4 linked regions of the Homo sapiens genome follow. The protein of the gene in region 3 purifies or fractionates together with the protein of the main gene of each other region. This does not show direct contact. Each region holds a gene or a part of one and is shown on either strand. Other genes may lie near its edges.

Evidence for each region.
Region 1: the proteins of SPATA7 (region 3) and EEPD1 purify together in Homo sapiens (affinity purification with mass spectrometry; one large-scale study listed by BioGRID and IntAct). This does not show direct contact.
Region 2: the proteins of SPATA7 (region 3) and C1orf21 purify together in Homo sapiens (affinity purification with mass spectrometry; one large-scale study listed by BioGRID and IntAct). This does not show direct contact.
Region 4: the proteins of SPATA7 (region 3) and CCNYL1 purify together in Homo sapiens (affinity purification with mass spectrometry; one large-scale study listed by BioGRID and IntAct). This does not show direct contact.

The regions. Positions count from the first base shown.
Region 1 is NC_000007.14:36,299,146-36,303,026, reverse strand, and holds the end of EEPD1 (endonuclease/exonuclease/phosphatase family domain-containing protein 1), read right to left. Parts: coding exon 3,821-3,881; 3' UTR 1,489-3,820; downstream 1-1,488.
Region 2 is NC_000001.11:184,504,911-184,509,398, reverse strand, and holds part of C1orf21 (uncharacterized protein C1orf21), read right to left. Parts: intron 1,812-4,488; coding exon 1,717-1,811; intron 1-1,716.
Region 3 is NC_000014.9:88,388,256-88,392,743, reverse strand, and holds part of SPATA7 (spermatogenesis-associated protein 7), read right to left. Parts: intron 1,364-4,488; coding exon 1,289-1,363; intron 1-1,288. UniProt on the Homo sapiens protein: Involved in the maintenance of both rod and cone photoreceptor cells.
Region 4 is NC_000002.12:207,749,176-207,753,663, reverse strand, and holds part of CCNYL1 (cyclin-Y-like protein 1), read right to left. Parts: intron 2,708-4,488; coding exon 2,545-2,707; intron 77-2,544; coding exon 1-76. UniProt on the Homo sapiens protein: Key regulator of Wnt signaling implicated in various biological processes including male fertility, embryonic neurogenesis and cortex development. Activates the cyclin-dependent kinase CDK16, and promotes sperm maturation.

The sequences.
Region 1 (3,881 bases), on a different chromosome or scaffold from region 3:
CATGGGTTATTTGAAACTGTATGCTAAGTTTAAGACCCGTGAGTGCTGTTCAAGTCATTAATTCCTCTCCCCAGAAAACAAACCCTGTAGCTGTCTCAGGTGAGATTCACTTAAGGTGGAGACTTAAGCCACGCTGGGCAGAACCGAAAACCCAGGTGTTAGGATTCTCACCCATTCCAGAGGGCAATGTTATCTGCACTGAGGAGAATTCTGATGTCAGAACCAAAGAAACACAAAGAAGAAAATAGCATCCCCTTGACTTTGAAAGAAAGCAGCCCTTTAGGAAAGGCCAAGCCCGTGTCCTCCCTTGCAGTCCCTAGAGCAGCCATGAGGGAGTCAAAGCTTGGGCCTAGTTATTTGAGGCCCAGGAGGGCTTCCCGCCTCTAGTCAGTCACCCCTGCAGTGCCGGCAGAGCTGATAGAGATGGCTGGGTCCCCACCCCTGCATAGAAAGAGCCATCTCTGATCTGTGGTAGACAATGGGCAGGAGAGGAGAGAGGTTCCATTGGGGCGTGGAAGGGACAGTTGGCTGCCTGCGGTTCTCCTATGATAGGGAGAGCAGGGAGAATGCCGTGGGCTCCTAGTCAGCGCCTGTGGGACTGGAAGAGCTTTTCTTGTACTTAATCCCTTCTTCCCCTCCCAGCCCCGGTTCAGCAGCAGGGGACTTCCCTTGGCTTCTCCAACAAAGTCCTTCGCAGTTAGGCCCCTTCTCAGACAATCTTGGAAGATGGAGAAGCAAGAAAAGAATGGAGAGGGAGAATGGAAGAGGTGGACTCAGAAATGCCGCATTTGTGGGTGGAGCTGGGGCTGGGGTGAGAGGAAGCTCCGGGGAAGGCACAGAAACAATCCAAGGGAGGCAGGTCAATTCCACACAGCGGAACATGACTCAGCAGGAAAAAGAAAGGAGCTATCAGACCATAGAAAGACACAGAGCAACCTTAAATGCATGTGGCTAGGGGTAGAAGCTCACGTGAACAGGCTGCATACTCTATAATTCCAACCAAACGACACCCTGGAAAAGACAAAACTATGGAGATGGTGAAAAGAGCAGTGACTGTCACGGGTTAGGGGGAGGGAGGCATGGGTGAATAGATGGAGAACAAGGGTATTTTTTTTTAGACAGAGTTTCGCTCTTGTTGCCCAGGCTGGAGTACAATGGCATGATCTCAGCTCACTGCAACCTCTACCTCCCAGGTTCAAGCAATTCTCGTGCTTCAGCCTCCCAAGTAGCTGCGAATACAGGCATGCGCCACCACATCTGGCTAAATTTTGTACTTTTAGTAGAGATGGGGTTTCACCATGTTGGTCAAGCTGGTCTCGAACTCCTGACCTCAAATGATCTGCCCGCCTCCACCTCCCAAAGTGCTGGGATTACGGGCTCGAGCCACCATGCCCCACCACAAGGGCATTTTTACATCAGAGGAACTATTCTGAATGATTCTGTAGCATGGTGATACATGTCATTCTACATTTGTCAAAACCCATAGGATGCACAACACAAAGAGTGAACTTTAATATAAACTATGAACACTGTAGCTAATAATGAATACAAGTTCATCAGTTGTAACAAAGTGCCATGCTAATGCAACATGCTAATTAGAGGGGGAAATATGCAAAGAAGAGGAGGGATATGGGAATCCCTTTGTGCCTAATTTTTCTGTAAACATAAAACTGCTCTTACAAATAAAGCCTATTAATTAAAACAACAAAATACAAAACAACAACTAAAACCAAAAACAGCCAACACCCAATGGGTTGAGCTGGAGTAAGAACAGGCTGCCCAGCACACTTCCTGGGCCACTGAGCCCTGGGCGTGAAAAGCAAAAGGGCCAGTGAGGTTTGGCTGGGACTCAGCTCCCCAGCCTCTGGCTCAAGCCCGATTACGAACACAAAGGTCATCTGATTGGATTTCCTGTCCCCTCAGCTCACTTAAGGAGGCTTTTCTGTCCACAGCTTTGGTTGCAAAAAGCAATCTGGCTAAAGGGATTTGGGACATCCGGCTGGTGAATGTAGGGGAGGTTTCACCTTTAGATGAGGCACCAGAAACGATGTGCTCCCTGGTAGCATCCTGAGCTGCCCCTCTTGACTTTAATGCTAACCCTGCTGCTTTTCCTCAAGGCTCAGACATCCCATTTCGATGCTTCCAGAAGCACAGCCTGAACCCAGGGACAGGAGCTGCCGCCCTCCCACTGGAGAGACCTCAGAATGGACACAATTGATTCCCAAGTACCCTTAGAGCTCCTGGAAGAGGGTTCCCTTCCCGTCCCCAAGACCAGCGATGCTTCTTGGAGCCAGGTGGCCCCAAAAGGATGGCCTTTGGAGAAAAATAGGCCCCCTTCACGGCCCATCAGCTCCAGGTCAGAGAAGCCACTGGGTTTACACTGCGTGGGGACAGGAGGGTTCTTGATACTGGTCCACATTTAGTGTTCGGTGTGGAAAGCGGAATAAGTCCTCAGCTTCCATGGGATACTGGAATAATCTAGGTAATCTAAGCTCATAACTTACCTTTTCACTATTTACTTTCATATTTTTCCATTCATGTTAAGCATAAAGTTGAAATGTGAGCACATAGCAAAACCTGAGTCTGCATCCCTCTATTTACCCAGTGGTGTGACCTTGAGGAGGTCGAGCTCTCTAAGCCTCAGCGTCTTCAGCTGTGAAACGCAAATTGTGGCAGATCTCCCTGGGATGGTGTTGCCTAAGGGAAATCCCTCCTGGCTTGGGCTCGGGGATGCAGATGCCTAGTGGCAGGCACGCATCCTCGCTTCCTCCCCACAACCTCTCTCCAGCCCCACAACCAACTGTCCCTACCTCCAGCCACTAGGAGGGACACTCTCCATGATACCCCGAGGTCAACTTCCTATGTATCCTGACACAGCACACATTCCTGATAGTCAACCACAGGAGGCTCCGGGCTAAAAACTGGAGTGAGTGGGGAGGAGGGAGGAGGTGATACCACCCTGAGAGAATTCTTGTCCTGCAAAGAGAACTAAACAAATAGTGCTCCAGGCAAAAGCCAGGCTGGTGAAGGAGGCAGGGGATGAAGGAGGGGCTGGGAAGGGGAGATGACAGAGAGGCTTCACAGAGGTCCCGGCGAGCTGATGGGGCCTTGAGAGGCGCCTCTGCAAGGCCTCAAGGTGGGGACATAAAAGGCGCAGGGGAAGTGAAGCTGCTCAGGGCTTGACCCTAGCTCCACACAGAGGCACCTGCCGTGGTGCAAATACACACTGCGCGTTGGGGGGCGGGGGAAGGGGGCGGGGGAGGGCTGTGGCGGACTTGTCCCATGCTCTCACTGCAGCGAGGCAGGTTAATCTGTTTATTTTTTCAAAACAAAACTAAAAATCGCCACTCAATGTATCTGAGCAGAGTGCCTGATCACAGTTAAAAGCTTTCTGTAATGCGCAGCAGGAACGTCATAGCCTGGTGGTCAGAAATGAGTGCTTCTGGCGCTGCTGGACTGTGGCCCGCAGCCTGAGCACCCCTTCTTCTCCTCCCTCTGCTCATATTGTCTTTGTGCTGCCATCCAGTCAGCAGCGGACAGCCAGCCCAATGCTGCTCAGGTCTGTGGCATCCAGAGATAAAAGGCGTCTCCGCTCCCCGCAGGTTTCTGCTTTGCCCACCTGGTGGGGTACGCGCCTGGCACGCCACCCCCACTGGAGGTCCTGAATGGTCCACAGAGAAGGCGTGGGGCAAGGCCTCAAGTGCTGATGCTCTGAGAATAAAAATTAAAAGGCAGCTCTGCCCTGAAGCGTCACCCCACAGGGCTCATTCCTTGGCTGTGCCCTCCTGGGTCCCAGGGTGGACACATGGATTTGGTGTCATCATCGCTCGTGCTTGATGTTGGCTTCACTTCGCTCCAAGGCCACCCCGCTGCCGTTCCGA
Region 2 (4,488 bases), on a different chromosome or scaffold from region 3:
GCTTGTCACAGATAATCCACAAATAAATCAGAATGACCAAATATTTTTCTCTTTTCAAATTCCTATTCAGTCTGATTCTGACCACAATGCTGAAAAAGAATACACCAAGTACCAAGTAGTTGACAGATTGCAAAACTGCGAGAGAAGGAAAAAAGTTATACTGGTCCTAAATATGATGATGAAAGCACACTGAGAAAAAACTCACAAACTATACAAGGTGTTGCTTCTTTGGTTCTAGAGACATAAGCATGTGAAGCAGAGACACACATTAGTAGATTTAAGGAGAAACCACTGCCAGACTACTCACAAGTAGCTCTCTAGCCTCTACAGTAAATATTATTATTAAGGATGAGATTGATAACTCAAGCTGAAACTATATCAAGCAAGTACAAACTCTGTTGTTTAGTAAAATAAAGTAGAAAAATGACTACTGATATTTCAATACTCAGGTCTTCGATTTATCCATTCAAAACAAAATAAACACCATGTAGGCAGTATGGTAATATTAACTTTTAGTATTTAGTCATAGCTACTTTCCTGGATTTAAGTGTTAATGTTAAAATACATTATCACTCTAGATATGATGAATCTCTGTGTCTTAAGTGATACTTTAAAATCCAAATCCCATTTATGAAGCAAAACTTCATTATCTAGAGTATATTTTCATTCCTTGAAAATGATCTAAAATATTCACTTGTTGATACTTCAGTATTTCAAGTTATAGATCATATATTCAGAAAAGAATTAGGGGAAAGAATCAGCCTCCAATATTCACAAATGTGTAATGGAAAATAACAGCCCTAAATACTCCTGTGCACTGCTTAATATTCTGCCAAATTCCTCTGCTGTAGCAGAAGTCATTAAAACAAAAACAAAGCACATTATAAAAAAACGAGTTTAAGTCAAGTGAAAGTATTATATGACATTGAGAGCTTCTTAAAAATACCTTTTTAACTCAGTTATGAAAAAAGCAAATATAGGTAATCAAAAAATAAAATATAAACAACAAAAACAATTTTGCTCCAATACAACTAAATACATATTCTTAACAATTTGTAACTGCTTTTAAGAAATCATCTATATTATAATTAGCTAAATGTTTTTATAGATATGGGATGTTAAGATGGAATGTGTATACTGATTCCTACTCAAAAAAGGGATTCCTAACTTCCTGTTTCAGATCTTCACAATTCTCACATAAACTCAAAACCCACAATACCCTTAATATTGTGAATGTGAAGTACTGACTCTCTGGAGAAAGACTTATCTTGAAGTAAGTTGCTTTTCCTTTGAAAATGACCTTTGATTCCTTTGAAAAGCAACTTTGTCAACATTACATGTCTAGAATAATGAAACAACCATTCATCCTGATTTGGATATGAGTTAGAAGAGGTAGAAAAAAACAAAACTAAAACAATCCTCCCCTCACAAACCTCAATCCTACTTCATTATTTTTCCCTTAAATTTAGCTATTTTAAAACACGAATAATTTTGCTATATTTTATGGAGCATTCCCCATCAAGATTAAAGAAGGGCTTATTCAGAGACAAACAGGATACAGGAGTAATGGTGCAGCTTCCAGGCAAGCTATAAATAGCTGCAGCATTTTCAAGAAATCTTGTGCCAGTGTGTAAGTTGCAGTTAAAACATGCAGTGCAGATTTTATTACAATAGTGTCACCAAAATTCATTGTTAAGTGAGAAAATCAATTCTTACCAAGTTTTCTTGGTTCCTGGCTGCTATTTTCTGCTCTTCTTCTGCCCCATTTTTCATGTATTTGACCTCTTCCACTGGTTTGATCCTATACTCATCTGAGTGCCAAAAAAAGAAAACACATTTTATAATTTTTTTCCCAATAGTAGAAAAGTGTCAGTCAGAAAATCCCAATAGTGTAATTTGCTAGACCCTTTCACCTGTGGCCTTCATATGTGGTTCATTTGGAACAATCTGGAAGAAGCTTAACTAGGCATCTTAGATCTTTTTATGAGCCCCTCTCCTCTGTCTACTAGAAAAAGCTCAGCATCACGAATGCTTCTAATCAAAGTGTCACTGCCTGGTCCTTCCACAGAGAGCAAATGCTGCAGAGGAAACAGGATACTCCATCTCTAAAGACTTTTTGAAATGTATGTTACACTAGGACATATCACAGAACTGTCTGATAAGATTCAAGAGAATATTCTTATTTTTCTCCAAGAGAGTATTAGTCCAAAATGCCTGTGCCAACAATTTTCAGTGACATATTCATTCTTTAATTTCCCTTTTGAAAAAACAGAGTAAGACTAAAGAGTTATATTGATAAATAGAAACAACTGAAGAATTGAGACTTTTCTTTCTGTGATCCCTATATTAAATTTTAGCAGTCTGCAATTATTTCACATTAATATATATATTTATTTCATATATATATTTATTTCATATATATGTATATATACACTTTAATTCAATCTCTCTGTAAAGTCATATGCATGAAGAGCTATTATACCTAACAGATGAAATGGTAGGTACATCAGTCAAGGCTGGAGAGTATAGTGGGATGTGGATGGGACCTAGCCTCCGCAACAGCCAGACAGAGAACACAGATCCCAGTATCAATATACACCATAGAACAAACTCAGGAAAACTTGCAGCTTCAGTTCTCCAGAAGACTGATCACTATGATGACATTTCCATCAGATTCCTGTCAACAGGAAATGATTTGAGCGCACTAAAGTCAAAAATAGGTGTGACTCTGAATCATTCTTAACCCAATCTGTGGGAAACATCACAGAAATTGTGAAATTAGAAAATATCATCAACCAACAAACTAACGATTGTCTGGCATATAGCATGAAGTAATGTCTAACTATAGGAACCACCTGAAAGACAGCTGTCTATCACTAAGAGAGTTTATATTTCAGTTCAGAAAGTTGCAATATATTTTCTTATTAACTATGATTAAATGGGTAAAAAGACTATACTCTTATTTAATTTCTTATCTTAGTATCTATAACACCACTTTCTAATATAGTTTCAGGTTTCCTCATCATATCACCCCTTAACACACAACTCCCAAAGATGTTCGTTACAGTAATATTTCTGCAAGTAATTATGCTGTTCAAATGTTTCTCAAAATTATCATTCTTAAGAATGTAATACATTTGCATGTATCTGAATAAAGACTTCATGTTCACTAAGCCAACTGTTTTTTCCACCTGACAATTTAGAGTTATTATTGATTCTATTTTTTTGTAAAGATATTAGAAAGACTAGTGTGAGGTTCAGTAATGAGCCCTTTAGGAATACCAGGTCCTAAATATATTAACAAGTTAATCAGCAGATTCTGATCCACAATTACAATACAAAAGAATTCTACATACCAACTTGGTATTTCGAAGAGACAAAAATGAATGTAAATTAATAATACTGACAAATTTGATGAAGGATTATTTACTGAGAATTTGGAAAAACAATTGCTAATTAAAAAAGAGAAGACACTGACAAATTTGCCCCCAACACAATTACACAGAGATAAAAATAAAAGGTAAAAAAAAAAGGTAAAAATGGGCCTCCCTAACTTCAGTTTGGGACATTAATATTTATAAATCCTGGCAGACTGAGATAATTACTCTTAATAATTTTTTTGTTTGTTTGTTTTTTCAGACAGAGTTTCATTCTACTGCCCAGGCTGGAGTGTGATGGTGTGATCTCGGCTCACTGCAACCTCCGCCTCCCGGGTTCAAGCAATTCTCCTGCCTCAGCCTCCTAACTAGCTGGGATTACAGGCGCCTGCTACCATGCCTGGCTAATTTTTTGTATTTTTAGTAGAGACGGGTTTTACCATGTTGGCCAGGGTGGTCTCGAACTCCTGACCTCAGGTGATCCATCTGCCTCGGCCTCCCAAAGTACTGAGATTACAGGCGTGAGCCATCATGCCTGGCCTACTATTAATAAACTTTAACTGAACTAAATTGTGAACTTAATTGCTAATGGTGAGTTTCTAATTATTTAAATACACAGAACACTGATATAAATATATATAGGTGAATATATACATGTCTATATATATATGGCATGTGTGTATATATATATATATATATATATATATATATATATTTCTTTATGTATCACAAGTGGATTCTATGATTTTGTCTGTAGGATGGGGAAGAGGGTAACATTTTTGGACCTAAGCAGAACCTTCTGAAAGACCCAGATGGCCCCTTGCCCACTGTGTAGTGAAGGTTTCTCCTAGGGAGGAGATGCCCTTGCACTTGCCCACTGTCCTCTCCCGTCTGCCAAGCCACAGACTAGTGCAGACATACTCTGAACAGCCCAGTGACATTCAGTCTTCATTTTCTTATCCCTCCAGGGAACACAACTAAATTGAAGGTAGTGGACAAACTATTACTACTTTTCCAATATGTTTTTCCAATGAAATGGAAAAGCTACTGGCTACATGACTTTCAAAGCAGCATTATTCTAAACACAGGCCATTTTTTAAATCAAGACAGA
Region 3 (4,488 bases):
TTAAAAACAGTTTTTGAGAAGTAATACACGCAATGTGGTTAAAAAAATTCAACAGCTAAAATGGCATATGGAGTTTGAAAAAGAAGTGATTTCTCTACCCTGACCTTTAGTCTCCCTTCCCAGAAATATACTATGTTACTGTTTAAATGCATCCTTCCAGAGACTCTGTGCATAATACAAGCCTATGCAATAATTACGAGCTTGATGCCACTACTAAAAATATTTACTGAATAAATGCCATTTACCATGCATTGTTCTAAACTCTTTATATGTATAAACTTATCTAGTCATTATTATTATCATTTAATCGAAGTGAAAACTGAGGCACAGAGATATGAGTTACATCTTCAAGGTTACACTGCTGATAAAGGATGCAGCTTCCATGTGATCCAAGGCAGCCTCATACTTAAAACCACCATACCTATACCAGCTCTATATATATATTCTTTAAAAGAAAGTTAGCAAACTTTACATATTGTTCTTTATCCTGATTTCTATGTATGTATATTTTAAATCTAGTTTTAACTTTTTATTTAAAATTTAGTTTTTAAAGTTTATCATTATGGCTATGTTACATACATATATATGTTACATACATACATAGCCACAATCATAAACTTTAAAAAATACACTGTAATACAAAGAAATAAGTGAGGCAACTGAAAATGAGATCCTTCCACCACATTTGGAGGTAACAGTATCAAAGATTTTTCCTGTAAATAAGGAAAATAAGGCTTTAATTATTTTGCCTAAGGACATAGACTTATACTTCTAAGGTATAATTACAAAAATTTATTTTAAAACCTACCTTAAAAATGTACCTTGAAAGCTTTAAAATATAAAAATATCACAGCACCTAGAAATCCAGTTGGATAAAGAGGCCCATAGGCCTTTGCTCCTAATAGGAAATGTATTATTCAAGTGCTCTTTTTCTCTGCACAGCTTTTCCTTTTCAGTGCTTGCGTCTTTAATACCTGCTACTCACCATTTTAACAAGGCAGGTATGCCTTAAATCAGGGTAGTTTCCTGGCAAAAGTAGAGCTGGGCTGCTGTAGCAGCTGGGAGCAGGAGACAGCCAAGTCCACATCCAGGGCACAATAATAGTTTGAAATCATAGACTCCAAAATTCTCTAATCTCAAGAACGCCTATATTTCATTAAAATTAATAATATGAAGTTCAAATATTCGTCAAATGAAACAATTTTTCCATCATGTCATATAATTTGCCAGTAAAGGAAACACTCAGACAATCTTCTAACAAAGCTGCCGTTTTAAGCACCTCACTTACCATTACTTTTGGTGCTCAAGTGTCCTTTAAATAGGCACGGTGGACCATATCTGGGAAGGACAGAGGTTGCTCTGACTTTTAACAAGAAAAAAAAATCATAAATTAGGATAAATGAAACACAACTTTTACAAAAACAACAATATTCAATATTTTTTAAATAATAAATTTATCACAAAATAATTTCTTTCCTAAAAGGTGATTGCGTTTTTAGTAGTAATCTCCAAAACAGGAAGTCTGAGTTACAGCATTAAATGTAATTTAATATGCAAAATATAAATGCTTTATCCCCCAAACAGAGATGTTTTAAGAGGGTAAGATGGCTAGTTTGCTATCAGGTGGGCTGTTAAAAGCTATAACAAGGAGGACACATAGAAAGTCTAGAAGATATATGGATGACTAAATATAGAAAAAAGAAGTATCGAGCTAGGAGAACTAAAATCTAAGACCAGAGAACAAAGCTTGTCAGAATAGATTAAAACAGAAAAACAAACTGAGGTCAGAATATCTATGAAGCTCTTTCTATGTCACAGGTCAGAGTGCAGGAAGGAAAAAAATATTTAGGACAATACAAGTCAAGGTGATGCCATCTGAACTGGGAAAAAAGATAGTCATGAAATGAGCATAGCTTCTACCAAGAAAGAAGGAGGGTAAGACCTAAACATAAGAAAAAATACCAACAAACTCTCAGAAAAACCTCATTTCTCCAGATAGAAAGAACTGTGACTTTTTTCTTGTCCAGAATTCAATGCCTCTTCACCTGGAAATGACAACTCAACTTTCCTTTGGGCGACTCTTCCCTTACTCTTAGCCCAGGTGGTTCAAATAGAGCTGACCCCACTGTCAGGGTTAGGCATAAAACCCAAATGTGGACAGCTGTGTTGACAGCGTCAGCAATGCTATGCGATCCAAGTCCCAACATGAGATACACAATCCTGGGCCTTTGACAGGAACTATTAGGAAAGGTACTTTCATTTCACTGGGCTTGCTAAACCCAGTGAAGGGTCTAAGCAAGCCCTGTATTGCTGGTGGCCATCCTGAACCTTATAAAGGAACCTGTCTGAGAATGAAGCCTACACAGTCAAGTGGAACCAAGATAGAAAGCGATTTCTTGGTGACATCATTTGAGTACCTGAGGCCAACCATGTTTGAAGCTCTTCCTTCCCTAGACGTTTCTTTACATTAGCCAAAAAAAAAAAAAAATTCCCATTTTAGCTTAAACCAGTATGAGTTGATTTCTTCATTTGTAGTCAAAAGGCTAATTTATTGAGTGGTAACCCTGCCAGGCAGTGCTCCAAGCACTTTGCTGGTATAAATTCATTTAATCCTTACAATACTATAATTCTCCCTACTTTATAGATGAGGGTAATTGAAGCACAGAGGTTAAACTTGTAATTTGCCAAAGATTACACAAGAATGTGACAGATTTGGGATCTGAACCCAAGCAGTCTGTTTCCTGGGTCTTAATCATTACACTATCTTGACCAATATAAACTGCTCAGTACTTGAACCATGTTCTAAGCTACTAAATCATGTGAAACAGACCAAGAAGATATCTCAGCTGTATGTAGTTTATTCCCTCCAAATTCCATTCTATTCTATGTATGTTTCACTATAGGTCACAGAAAAAGGAAAAACAGGTATACCCAGAGAAGTGTGAAAGGATGAAAAGAGAATGAAAAAAGGCTGGAACCTAGTGATAATGCTCTGGATAGAAATGCTTCCCCACCCATCTGTAAGTGACAGCTGTGAACAAGGTGGTTAATATTTGGCCCCAGGAATCAATCCAGCTGCTCTTTAGCATAAGATGGTGATAAGAACAAACATGGAATTTAGATGTTCCTTGATGTCTATGTTCCCTTGTCTATTTACCATCAGACGTACACCAAGGCATATACTCATTGGTTTCTAATATTCCTATAGATACATGTCATATTAAAAATGACAGAATTAGGGCTGAGCACAATGGCTCGTGCTTGTAATCCCAGCACTTTGGGAGACTGAGGCAGGCTGATCACCTAAGCCCAGAAGTTCAAAGACCAGCCTGGACAACATGGCGAAACTCTAACTGCACAAAAAAATACAAAATTAGCTGGGTGTGGTGGTGTGTGCCTGTAGTCCCAGCTACACAGGAGGCTGAGATGGGAGGATGATTGAGCCCAGGAGGCTGCAATGCACTCCAGTCTGGGTAACAGAATAAGACCCTGTCTCGAAAAAAGAAAAAAGAAAGAGAAAGGAAAAAAAAAAACCTAACAGAATTGAGGGGAGAAATAAGACGATTTAATTCATCTACCCTCTCATAGTTTCTGGTTCCTCCTTTGTGTCCTGTGTATAGGTCACATTTTCCTGTTTTTTTGTTTTTGTTTTTTTGCATGACTTGCAATTTCTTTTTGTTGAAAAGTTAACATTTTAGGTAATATATTGCAGCAACTCTAGATACAGAATCCTCTCCTGAGCTTGTTTTCATTGTTGTTCACTTGTTTGTTTAGTGACTTGGCTAAGCAATTTATCAAAGTCTATTTCCCATGGAATGTGAAGCCTCCGATATCACTCCTCGGTGATGAAGCTTTGGGCAAGTGCACAATCACGCCTTCTCTAATGAGGTCTGAACCCCAGTCTTTGGGAGAAACTCTCTTTCAAATTGTCCTTCTTTGAGTACTTTCCCGTAATTCTAGGTACCAAATACAGTTTTCTTATCTTTTTAATTAATTCATTAATTTGTTTTATATACTAGAGACAGGGTCTTGCTATGTTACCCAGGCTGATTACAAACCACTGACCTCAAGTGATGCTCCTGCCTCAGCCTCCTAAAATGCTGAGATTACAGGCATGAGCTGACACGCCCAGCCCCTTACATCTTATAGTTACTCTTTTATGAAAGTATAACAATTCTTTAACTTTTCCTTGTATAAAAATCACTGTATGGTTTCTATCTCCTGACTGGACTGGACCCAGAATGAGCCAAAGGGGCATGGAGAAGTAGCCTCAAACCAAATGCCAAGGAAAAGAACATCATTCTCTAACTATTAGGACTAAAATCTTGTCAATGAGATTGAAGGTCTTAGTGGTGAAATTCACTGGTATATGAGAGCAGCCCATTTTCCTACACAATTTGATTAAAATAGCCAGAAGAAAGTCCAGTGAGGAAAGATGAAAGTGTTTCTTGTGGCAAGGTTTCTCTGGAAAACCAAAGGTTTGGAAAT
Region 4 (4,488 bases), on a different chromosome or scaffold from region 3:
TGAAGTTATCAGCACTGAAAGACCTTCTCATAGCGGCTCTACACAAGTCTTTGTCTTCACACAATCTAGAAATAGCCTAGGAAAGTCAATCAAATAGAAAACAGGTACAATTTTAAAAAGGGTTCCCGCCTTTGAAAGAGCACCATTGTGAAAGCCACACATGTGGACTCCTTTAGATAGTTCACAGTTACAGCTACTTTGGCTGAGTTTTACACTGCCAGGTTGTGGGGACACTACTTCCTGACAGTTCACCAAGGTAATATCCTTTAAGGGCTATGGTTAGATTCCCAGAGAACAAAGGGGAATTTATTATATTATTAAAAAACTGGATTCCCAAAGATATCAAAGGTATTGTGATAGGGCTCCTAACAGCAATAGCATCTGTTATCTGTTAACTTATTCCTTAAATATAACAAACGTACACTTGTGCAAAAAAATGTTTATTCAGCTATTCAAATTCTACCCAATCCTTATTAGCTATTATATACTCAAAGCACATTTTAATGAGGCAGGTGTGTGCTGGACTATACTGGAACATATGAGCGGTCTGATGACTGACGCGCCAAAAGGTATTACTTCACATGCACGTTAATTATGGTAGAAATACATATTATTATTTTTTTCTTTTTTTTTTTTGAGGCAGAGTTTCGCTCGTTGCCCAGGCTGGAGTGATCTCAGCTCATTGCAACCTCTATCTCCCAGGTTCAAGCGATTCTCCTGCCTCAGCCTCCCAAGTAGCTAGGATTACAGGCATGTGCCACCATACCCAGCTAATTTTTTGTATTTTTAGTAGAGACAGGGTTTCACCATGTTGGCCAGGCTGGTCTCAAACTCCTGACCTCAGGTGATCCCGCCTGCCTCGGCCTCCCAAAGTGCTGGGAGGAATGAGCCTCTGAGGCATGAGCCACTCTCAGGCATGTGCCACTGAGCCCAGCCTAGAAATACATATTATTCTAAAGTACCACCAAGGTACCACAGAAAGTGTTAGTTTAAAATATGTGTCCATTTCAGTTGTAATTCTGCTGTATACTCACCAAGAGTCATAAGCCATAAATATTACTTTGCCCCATAAAGTTACCATTTCTATTAAAAACCCATGTACTTCCTACATTATTATTTTTTTTTTTTTGAGACAAGGGTCTTGCTCTATCGCCCAGGCTGGAGTGCAGTGGCATGATCTCGGCTCACTGCAGCCTCCGCCTCCCGGGTTCAAGCAATTCTCATGCCTCAGCCTCCTGAGTAACTGGGCGTCTGCCACCACGCCCGGCTAATTTTTGAATTTTTAGTAGAGACCGGGTTTCTCTGTGTTGGTAAGGCTGGTCTTGAAGTCCTGATCTCAAGTGATCCACCTGCCTCGGCCTCCCAAAATGCTGGAATTACAGGTGTGAGCCACCATGCCTACCACTTACATCCAGCATTTGAAACACCTGCATCCTATACAGTGAAGGGTATAGGTCTCTTGGCTTATCCACTAATCCTTTGTCTAAAAAACTCATGGGACTGCACTGTGATACATAAACCATGACATGAATTTGCAAACAGTAAGTAAGACAGTCAAGAGTGGCAAGTGAATTATGTATGTAGATAAAATTAGGAATACAGTCGCAAAGAAAAAATTTTTTTTTTTTGGAGACACAATCTCACTCCGTCACCTAGGCTAGAGTGCAGCGGTGCAATCTTGGCTCACTGCAACCTCCGCCTCCCAGGTTCAAGCGATGCTCATGCCTCAGCCTCCCAAGTAGCTGGGATTACAGGCATGCACCCCCATGCCTGTATTTTTGTGTGTGTGTACTTTTTTTTTTTTTTTTTGAGATGGAGTTTCGCTCTTGTTGCCCAGGCTGGAGTGCAATGGCACGATTTCAGCTCACCACAACCTCCGCCTCCCGGGTTCAAGCGATTCTCCTGCCTCAGCCTCCCGAGTAGCTGGGATTACAGGCATGCGCCACCACGGCCGGCTAATTTTGTATTTTTAGTAGAGACGGGGTTTCTCCATGTTGGTCAGGCTGGTCTTGAACTCCCAACCTCAGGTGATCTGCCCTCCTCGGCCTCCCAAAGTGCTGGGCTTACAGGCGTAAGCCACCGCGCCCGGCCTGTGTGTGTATTTTTAGTAGGGACAGGGTTTCACCATGTTCGCCAGGCTGGTCTTGAACTCCTGACCTCAAGTGATCTGCCCACCTCAGCCTCCCAAAGTGCTGGGATTACAGACATGAGCCACAGTGCCCAGCTAAAAAAATTATTCATGTATGGTTATGTGAAAGGGTAGAAGTTCAAAAGGAAACCTCATTAACAACAGATTAAATTTGATTTAAAATATTCTGAATTATGGTCACAGAAGAGTTAATATGTATAATTTTTAAATAATGTTGATCCTTGTATAAACCATACAAGACACAGGAAATCTGACGCCAAAGGGCTAATAAGCTCTTCAGTGTTAGTTAATTTTAAAGCTTTCCATTTTCCTAATCACTACTTAATATGATTTAGTCACAGATGTTGGCTTTGGTGGCTGATGGAAAACCTCACTTAGTGACTTCATAGCCTTACCTCTAGGTTCTGTGCTCTTTCTTTGCTAAGAGGAGCAAATAGAAAATTCAGGTTGTTGTCATCTGCTAAGGAGCGAAGGTCAAAGTAGTATTTGGCATAAACACTGGCAGGAACATTAATATTAAACTGAAGAAGCTCCAGAAAATGCCTTTCCATTTCATTCCTGGAGGAGGAAGAACACAACAGAACCAGCACAGGACAATGTCAGTCAACTGGGCTATCTTCAAAAATATCATTCTAAGAGACTAGAATGGCTCTAAACTCTATTTTAAAATATAGGCTACCCAGTTGTATTAACATACTAATGTTCACATAAGGTACAGTTACTTGTGGTCCCTTCTGCATCCCAGCACTCTGGAACTGGGATGAAGGTTGAAGGTTACGGCCTCCGATGCACTTGTGCTGCTGACTCGGGCCTCATTCTTCAGAGTTCCATTAGTGCAGCTGTACAATTCATACTTCACGCTCACTCACAAGGCCCCACTATAGTGATCAGATGAAAGGAATGATGTATGCTGTTTATTAGCTCTGAAGAACTTGCAGACATTTTCACCAGGCTGATAACAGGAAGGGGCTTATTGAAGTAGAGAAGCACCAACAAAAGGAGTAGGCATATCACCACGGCAACAAATGGATCCATCAAGAGCCACTGCTATTATCTCTGAGGGGGAAAAACTCTTGAGGCAACAAGGATTCATCTCAAATAAATAAATAAGCAAGCTACATTACAGGGGAAGGGAATCCCCTCCCCCTGTCCCGGCGCATGAGGCTATGTCAAAGGGCATAATGCAAGTTTCTGCTCACTTTAATATTATGAAGGTGAGAAATTGTCACTATGACAGGGTGAGGATACTCTTTAAACTTTGGAAGGCAGAAAGATCAAAGGTGGATGTCTTGGCTAGACTAAACCCATTTTATGATATGACTTATGGTAGGTCACTGGACTTAAAAACTCAGTGTTTCTTCTGAGTTGGGAATGAAACCCTGAGGTGCTCAGTATCTACCGTCCTGGTCAGAACAGAATGTAGGAGTGAGCTGAATGCAATGGGAGAGGAAAGGGCTGGGAGTAGTAGTCGGCTACATGACCACACAGCTGCCCTTGCCAAATGCTTAAGCAAATAAACATAAAACTAGAGAAAATCTTAACCACTTTCACAGTAATCCCTATAAGGAGTTAACTGTATAAAAATGATAAATACCTAAACAACATATTTGGTTTCTTGGTTTCAAAGTTTTAATATTTTATCCACTGGGTAAGTCAACAAATGCTTGATGATCTCCTGTATGGAGAGCAGTTAATATGAGCAGAGATGTGGTTTTCTCATTTGCTGAGCTTAAAAACCCAACTGAACCTACTTCCAAAATTAATTTCCTGTTCATATGTCCATAAGCCTATAGAAATGTAAATCAGATAATGTTTTGATAATCAGCTAACCAGGACTTAATTTACTACAGCAATAAATGCACTTCACAATCCCTTTTATATTTTTTCCACTAATACATTTTAACTGTGTAGAAATATAGTACTTCATAGGATTAACACACATATTAATAGAGGTTTAATCACTGAAGAAAAGCATTATGCTTACAGAATATGCATCTTCTAGGTTTTTTGTTTTTTTTTAAATGGCTAGGTGGCTGAATAGCATACCCTTTACAGGCACAGCAAACCGTCTGAATAGCAGCTGCTCAGTTTAACTTATTCTTTTAAAGGGAAATATATTCTAACAGGACATGTAGCTGTTGAAAATTTTTAAGAAAAACCTGATAGACACCAATTTAAAATTGTTTCAATTTAGACTCAAAATGAGACCACTACAAATAGTCAACAGCAGGGGGATGAGACAAATGTATATTAAACAGTTTGTTGAAATGCTTTCCAAAGATCATAAACAAAAGCAGCCTGTTTGTAGCATAGCTCCTGGTGCTTCCCTGGGCATACAC